Linked DNA regions of Homo sapiens. The protein of the gene in region 1 purifies or fractionates together with the protein of each later gene. This does not show direct contact. Each region holds a gene or a part of one and is shown in the gene's direction. Other genes may lie near its edges.

Region 1 (4,237 bases):
AGAATAGTTAGTGTCTGTGCTACATTTCCTAAAAAACTGTTTCCCCAGAAACTATATACAGCTTTCAGGTGCCTCAGTGCTTCAAGACATGCTAAGGGAGGACCCTCATTTGTCTTGCATGTTTTTGGGATTTTTCTTGAGATGTTCTTGCAGGACTCAGGGCAGATAACAGACCAGCTTGATGAAGAATTTAGCAAGGAAGGCCCCCACTGAGCTGCTTCCTGTTCTCGCAGAGATCAGATAAGCATTTCTGCTGGACAGTTACAGAATCTGGTCAAGGAGAGACTGAGTCACTGCTCATCATCCTAGAAGCTGCTGTTGATTTTTTTTTTTTAAAGACGGAGTTTCACTCTGTTGCCCAGGCAGGAGTGCAGTGGCATGTTCTTGGCTCACTGTAACCTCTGCCTCCTGGGTTCAAACAATTCTCCTGCCTCAACCTCCCCAGTAGCTGGGACTACAGGTGCCCGCCACCACTCCTGGCTAATTTTTTGTATTTTTAGTAGAGATGGGGTTTCACCATGTTAGCCAAGATGGTCTCGATCTCCTGACCTCATGATCCACCTGCCTTGGCCTCCCAAAGTGCTGGGATTACAGGCGTGAGCCACTGCACCTGGCCCAGAATATTTATTTAGAGACTGATGTCAGGCCTAAGTGTTGATAGTGGGTAGTAGTGGGCAAGATGCCTGGCCCTCTCTCTTTCTTCTCATGAGAGAAGGTGGAATGCCTTCCACCAAAGAAACGAGACCTCCCCATGACCAGCTGCTCCACTAACCACACATCCTCCAGTGATGCCTCTGAATGGTCCCGAGGGGCTGTGGTGGCTGGGCAGAGCCAGGCAGGAGCCAGAGTCAGCCTGGGGGGTGATGGAGCTGAGGCCATCACCGGTCTGACAGTGGACCAGTATGGCATGCTGTATAAGGTGGCTGTGCCGCCTGCCACCTTCTCACCAACTGGCCTCCCATCTGTGATGAATATGAGCCCCTTGCCCCCGGAAAAAAAAATAATATTGCATATACAGTTGATTAAATGGCATACTCCATGGCTATTAGGAATGATGAAAATGGGCTGGGTGCGGTGGCTCACACCTGTAATCCCAGCACTTTGGTAGGCCAAGGTGGGCAGATCACCTGAGGTCGGGAGTTTGAGACCAGCCTAATCAACATGGAGCTGTGTTTACTGAGTGGGGCTTTCGCAGGCTGGAGCTAAGAATTTCCAGTATGCGTAACAGCCACAGCCCAAATATCTGCCAGTGAGTTGTGTAATTCCCCAGAGCAGGCCTGGGCAGTGTCTGGGTGGGGCCTGGGAGCCACAGGAGACGCCCAAAGCCAGGCAGAGCCCGGGGGCGAGGGGGCGGCAGGCAGGTGTAGCGCTGCCCTGGGAGGGCTTGCACCCCCACACCCAAGTGAGCGGCCTGCTCACTCCTCAGCTGCAGGAGCCAGACGTGTGGAGTCCCAGCAGAGGCCAACCTGTGTCTCTTCATCTCCGTGAGAAAGGTGCCCCCGAAGTGAAAGAGATGGCCTGGTGGAAAGCCTGGGTAAGTGGGAGCTGGCAGGAGATTTGCGTTCCTGCATGGTGTTGGGTGCTGGTCACCAGGGAGTCCTGAGAAATGTAAAGTCGCCCTTGGCTGGGAGTGGCTCAGTCTACATTTGGCTGCCTCCTGGGCCAAGCATGGAGGGTGGGAAGGGGCCGAGAAGAAACAGTCCCAGGCCTAGAGTGCCCACGGCAGGGATGGGACCTGGGCCGGGAGACAGGCTGATGAAGAAATCTAGAAATGCAAGGGGGAAGCTGAGGTTTGAGAAGAGTCCAGGGGAGGGACCCTTGCAGGGGTGGGGCCACTCAAAGGAGGGGGTATCATGGTTGAGCCTTGTGTGTAAATGTGTATGGGGTGCACACACGTGTGCATTTGGGGAGAATCAGGCATACTGCTCCTGGCAGAGGGAACTGTGTGCAGAGGGTCAGAGGGCGGGGAGCTTGGCTTTGAGGGAAGCTGCTCAGCACAGCTCAAGGGTCCTGGTACCGGAGGAGATGGACCTGGGGAAGCAGGCAGGGCCAGGTCCTGAAAGGCCTTGCCTGGCAGGCTGAGGAGTTAGGCTTTACCTTAAGAGAAGTGGGAAGGCACTGAAGGGCTTTGAGCATGAGAGTAACCTGAACCTGCTGTTGGGGACCCATCAATGCCTTCACCTCAGGGATCAATGATGTTCATTTGTCAAGACTGGAGAGGGAAGAGGGGAAGCAGGAGGACCTAGCCTGCTAGAGCCTGGAGGAACCCGGGGCTCAGGGCAGCCCATGCCCAGCAGAACTGATGGGTTCTCGGGAGCTTTCTGTCTATGGTTGAGCCTGAGGCCATCGCTGTGCTAAGGAGTTGAATATCCAGAAGGGGACAGAGGTGACATCTCCCGGCTCCCGGCTCTGCACACCCTTTTCCTTTCCTCCCAGGCAGCCTCAGGATGTCAGGGCTGCACTTTCTGTTTTGCAGATGATGAAATGAAGGCTCAGAGACACTGAGTGACTTGCTAGGGTCCAATGGCCAGCAGGCTCCAGTCAGAGAGCAGTTGGGTCTCTCTGCCCAGCCCCAGGTTCTCTGTGAGCTTTTGTGGGATACCCAGGCTTGTACAGCTTCAGGGAGTCTCTGGATCATAGATGTCGCAACCCAAGCAAGTGTCCTCAGGGTCAGACATGCTAGGTTCTGGACAGGTGGGACAAAGAGGAAGCCAGGCTGAGGTGGGGCAGCTGTCCTGGCCCCCAGGGAAGCAGCCTTCTTCCAGGACAAGGGGCCATGGAGGCCTGCAGCTTCAACCAGACTGCTGGGAACCTGCCTTTGAGGAGGTGGACATGGCAGGGAGAGCCCAGTGCTGGGTGGTTTCCAAAGTCAGTTGCTGGCCAAGGCAGTCTGGCACTGGGCCTTGCACCCAGTGCAGCAGGACAAAGGGCTGTCCATGTAGGGACCTGCCAAATTGACAGGATCACTGTGACACTCACTGAGTCCCTACTCTGTGGCCGGACCCTTCTCTAAGCACCTCACATTCAATATCTCCCTTGAACCTCACAAGGAGTCTATGAAGTAGACACCAGTATCCTTATCCACAGATGAGGAAACTGAGGCACAAGTAGGCTAGGCAGGTGCCCGAACTCACTAGTAAGTGTGAGAGTCTAGGTGAGAATCTGAACAGCCTGACTCCAGGGCCAAAACCATACCCTGGTCGTCCATACCCCATGTGAGAGCTGGCTCGGGGTAGCAAGTTCACAGGTAGACCCCACCTGCAACAGCTGAGCTGCTAGCGAAGACCCAGTGTCCTCTAGGCACAAAGCTGGGCCAGGAACGGGATGGGAGGAGATGAGGGAGCCACTGGAGAGAGATCTGTCTGCAGGCAGGGCCCATCTGCACCTCTCTTTTTGGTGTTGCCTTTTCCTCTGTGTCTCTCATAGAGACAAACCCATCTCCCAGGCCTCTGGGCAGCCACGTAGCAGGGGAAGGCCAAGGCATGGCAGCTCCCCTGTGCCTGTCACAGAACAAGTTATATTAATAGATGTAGTCACAGGCTGGTCTGAGTCACCTTTTCAGTGAAAATGTGCCTGTCTGGACTAGCACGGCCCTGGGCAAGACCCTGCAGGAGCCTGAGGCTGACCCTTCCTTCTCAGCAGGAGGTCTGGAGCTCCAGGACTCCACACTGATAGCCAGGGCTCCGATTCCCAGAACACTTATTTTCTAAAACCTTAGAGTGGGAAGTGAGACAGAGGCTTCTCAATGCAGCAAAATCAGAACCAGCCAGGGAGCTGCTTACAAATGCTGCACCTGAGACCTACCGCACCCCTGCGGGACTGCATGCTCCTCAGGGATGTGGTTACACAGCCTGGCCACTCGCTGGTGCACCACAGCCCCCGAGTGCTGGGGCAGAGGGAAGCCGGCAGGCACTGAGAGCTGAGATGCCTCCCACATTCCCAGACGACCTGCGTTCCTGTGGGTGAAGCTTCCTTCAGTGGAACGTTCCAGGAACACTCATTGTCTGGGAAAGGTGGAGTCATCAGTAGGGCAGGGGAGGTAGATAGAGCTCAGCTTCTGAGTCAGGCTGGGGAGTCCCAACAGCATCACTTACTAGCTGTGTAAGGGAGTCCAGCTCCCTTTCTGTAAAGTGAGGCATCAGTACTTACCTAGCACAACTGTTGAGGAAGCCATGACATAAGCATTGCTTCTAAAGCACCTGGCCCAGGTCTGGCACACACAAGGGGCTTGAAGTGC
Region 2 (4,100 bases), on another chromosome or scaffold:
CAAATACACTTTATATCCCTGCATATTTTATGTTAACATTTATCAACTGTTCAAGTGCCTGCTTATTGTCTATCACTGTGCCGGGCACTGGACATTATGACAGCTTATGTCTGGCCTAAGACTATAATTAGCAATTACTTGGATTGAAAATTGTCATATTTAGGAGTTTACCAGTGTTGGTCAGGTAGGTGCATTTTGCTTTGTCATAAAATTGAATGGTTAAAGGGAAAGAAAGAAGAGATAGAATATTGAAGTGAGTATGGAATTCGGTTTCTTAGTTCTTGGAGAATTGTATTTTTCAAAAATCATTACTGCCACATATTTGGAAAATGTTCTTAAATGGGAAGACAGCAAATGCTGCCTCACTATCTTGCAGTGTTTTGCCCTCATGAAGCTTACATTCTAATGTATTTTAATCAGAAGTCAGCTAGAAAGGTGCTAGAGGTATTTGTTTTTCTGATTTTTTTTTTTTTTTTTTTTTTTTTTTTTGAGACGGAGTCTCCCTCTGTCGCCCAGGCTGGAGTGTAGTGGCGTGATCTCGGTTCACTGCAAGCCCCACCTCCTGGGTTCACGCCATTCTCCTGCCTCAGCCTCCTGAGTAGCTGGGACTACAGGTGCCCACCACCACGCCCGGCTGATTTATTTTAACCTGTATACAGCCTCCTTCCAAAAAGTGTAAAGCAACATAGACCTTTGATAGATGCAGATCTTCCATTGGCATTTTCATCTGCTCATGAACATCAAACTACTTCTCACTTAAACTAGTTTGTATTAATTTGCCGAGGCATGGGCTGAGTCCTGTGCACAGTCAATTAGATATGTAGAAGAAAGGAAATTAGCTAGAAAATGGACCATTTCTTGAGAAATGAATCTTGAAAAGAAAGACAACCTCTAGAGCTAATGATGGGAGTGGAGAGGTGTGAGAGTATAACAACTCATTTGGTTGTATAAGTTACTTTAGACCTATGTTTACAAAATTGCTAAGGATTTGAAGGGGCTACTTAAATTTCCAGTGATACTGTGCCATGTTGTTTTTGGGAAGAGGCTTGAAGTTCATCTGCAAAAAAATATTAAATGCTTACTGCTGTTACAAAGAACATTCCTCCAGATGTTAAAGAGTATTATCTCCCATCTCTTCCCAAATTCCCACCAAACATGGTTTTATATTTAAAAAGTAGAGTTCATTATCTTTGAAAACCTATTTTAAATTAAATACAAATGTTTAGCCATTCATTTTTATTGAACATTTTCTCATTTAAAATTTGTCGGCTGGGCACAGTGACTCAAGCCTGTAATCCCAGCATTTTGGGAGGCCGAGGCGGGTGGATCGCCTGAGGTCAGGAGTTCAAGACCAGGCTGGCCAACATGGCGAAACCCTGCCTACTAAAAATACAGAATTAGCCAGGCACAGTGGAAGGCGCCTGGTCTCAGCTACATGGGAGGCTGAGGCAGGAGGATCACTTGAACCCAGGAGGCAGAGGTTGCAGTGAGCTGAGATCACGCCACTGCACTCCAGCCTGGGGACAGAGCAAGACTCCGTCTCAAAAAAAAAAAAATGTCTTGTCTGATTCTCGCTACTAGATTGCAAGTTCCCCAAGGACAGCCTCTATTTTACTTACCCCTATAGTATCTGGTGTAGTCCCTGACATTTAAGAATTCAATGAACCTGTGGTTTATGGGGTTAAATTATAAGATAAATGACGGGACTGATATTTCTTATTTTTATGGTAGTTGATCACTTGTAAAACATGCAACAGAACAGTGAAACATCATGGTAAAAGTAGAAGCTTTGTGTCAACATTGAAGAGCAATCCTGCCACTCCTACAAGTAAACTCAGCCTGAAGACACCAGAGAGAAGGACTGCAAACCCAAATCATGACATGTCTGGCTCGAAAGGCAAGAGCCCAGCATCGGTTTTCAGGTATCTTAATCCATGAAGTTTTTGAATTGCCAGTGTTAAGTGTTTTCTTCTAATTTCCTGTGTTTAATATATACTCCCTAAATATGCCATGCATTTCAGGACTTGGCCATTTTTCCTCCATACCCTTTTCTAATGTCACATACTCCCATATCTTCAATGCTCATTTCAATGCATTTGACTTCTAGGTATGTTACTCTACTTCCAACATCTCCTGTGCCTATTTCCAGCTGCCTGCTAAATATAACCACTTCAGTCCCCTACATGTTCAAAACTTAGTTCATCATTGCCCCACAGCTAACCACTCAAACCTGTCCATCCTCCTGAGTTCCTTATTCTGTGAATGAACACACCTTTCTGGACATTTTGACCTAAAATGACAGGTACATTCAAAAATCCCTATTCCCTTGGTCCTTGTCACCGATTTCTATATATCCTACTTCCCTGTTTTCATCTTTTTGCTCCTTTTTCTCCATAGTGCTGCTATATTCTGGTTCAGGTCCTTATGCACCATTTGTCAGGACTACTGCAGTGATTTTCCTCATGGGTCTCCCTGCTTCTAGGATCAAACTCTTTTAGTGTGATCATCTTTCTGGAGCATAGCTCTGATTAGAAGCATCACTGTGTAGCATATGGATAAATGCTCTAGCATGGCTTTCCAGCCCTATCTGGCACCAGTCTGTCTGCCTGTCTTTCTTTGCCTTAAATCATCCTATGTGCCAACAAAACTGAACCATTCACGGCCGGGCATGGTGGCTCACACCTGTAATCCCAGCACTTTGGGAGGCTGAGGTGGGCGGCTCAGGAGTTCAAGACCAGCCTGTGCAACACGGTGAAATCCCATCTCTACTAAAATACAAAAGATTAGCCAGGCGTAGCGGCGTGCGCCTGTAGTCCCAGCTATTTGGGAGGCTGAGGCGGGAGAACTGCTTGAACCTGGGAGGCAGAGGTTGCAGTGAGCTGAGATGGCGCCACTGCACTCCAGCCTGGGCGACAGAGCGAGACTCCGTCTCCAAAAAAAAAAATACTGAACCATTCATAATACACTTTCTTGCCCTAAACATTTGTTCTTGCCCTTTTCTCTGTCAGAAATTCCTGAGGAAATCTAACTGAACAGGGATTTGTCAAATGATAATACACCGAGGATAGCCAGTGCATGTATATGGCCATAATACAAAAGAGTAGAAAATGATTGTCATTTGTTGGTATAACTAAGTGTGGTTTTGTTTCTTTTCAGAACACCTACATCTGGACAGTCAGTATCTACTTGCTCCTCAAAGAACACCAGCAAAACAAAGAAACACTTCTCTCAACTAAAAATGTTACTTAGTCAGAATGAATCCCAAAAGATTCCAAAGGTGGACTTCAGAAATTTCTTATCTTCTCTGAAGGGTGGACTTTTAAAATAAGAAATGCCTGATGTCAATTCTGAAACTAAAGTTGGTAAAACAACTTTTTAAACTCTTATTCATTTTTTGAATACATGGAAACTAGATCTGAATGCAAACTTTTCTTGGCATCCTTCAGTGTTTATGGGGAAAATACCTCATTAGTGTGAATACCTGAAACCTGCCTACCTCATAGGACAGCTGTGAGGATCAAAAAATATATGAAAGTTCCTTGTAGATACATATCTATAGATATATATGTGTATGTATATAAAGATAGATATATACATTGAGTAGTGGCATTACTGTTTTTTCTTCCTTTAGTCAGCAGTTTTTATTTATGTTATTGTCTTTCAAAAGGAAATTGAGATCTTTATGAGAGGGTCTATTCACTCAAGGGTTTCTTCCATGTGTCTATAGCATTGTTGATAATTCAGGAATAGGATCAAGTGGGTCCTTATTTTCTCACAATTATCTGCATAACTATCTTAGTAAAACCTGAACCTTATTCCTATTTTGATTGCAAAAGTAAATATCTGGAACATTCCTGATTATAGATCACTCAATAGGAAACTAAAATTTTCTTTCTTAGAAAAGGAAACATACTGTTGGTGATACTATAAATTAGTACAGCAACTTTGGAAAACAGTATGGAGGTTCCTCAAAAAACTAAAGGTAGAATTACCATATGATCCCATATCTGCATATATATCCAAAGGAATTGAAATCAGTATGTCAAAGAGATGTCTGCCCTACAGTGTTTCATTGTAGGATTATTCACAATAACCAAGAT

Evidence for each region. Proteins that work in one complex are often made in the same cells at the same time.
Region 2: the proteins of ANXA8L1 (region 1) and RMP24 purify together in Homo sapiens (co-immunoprecipitation; one large-scale study listed by IntAct). This does not show direct contact.

The regions. Positions count from the first base shown.
Region 1 is NC_000010.11:46,374,339-46,378,575, forward strand, and holds the start of ANXA8L1 (annexin A8-like protein 1), read left to right. Parts: upstream 1-1,437; 5' UTR 1,438-1,513; coding exon 1,514-1,534; intron 1,535-4,237.
Region 2 is NC_000018.10:35,975,679-35,979,778, forward strand, and holds the end of RMP24 (UPF0711 protein C18orf21), read left to right. Parts: intron 1-1,731; coding exon 1,732-1,922; intron 1,923-3,156; coding exon 3,157-3,328; 3' UTR 3,329-3,600; downstream 3,601-4,100.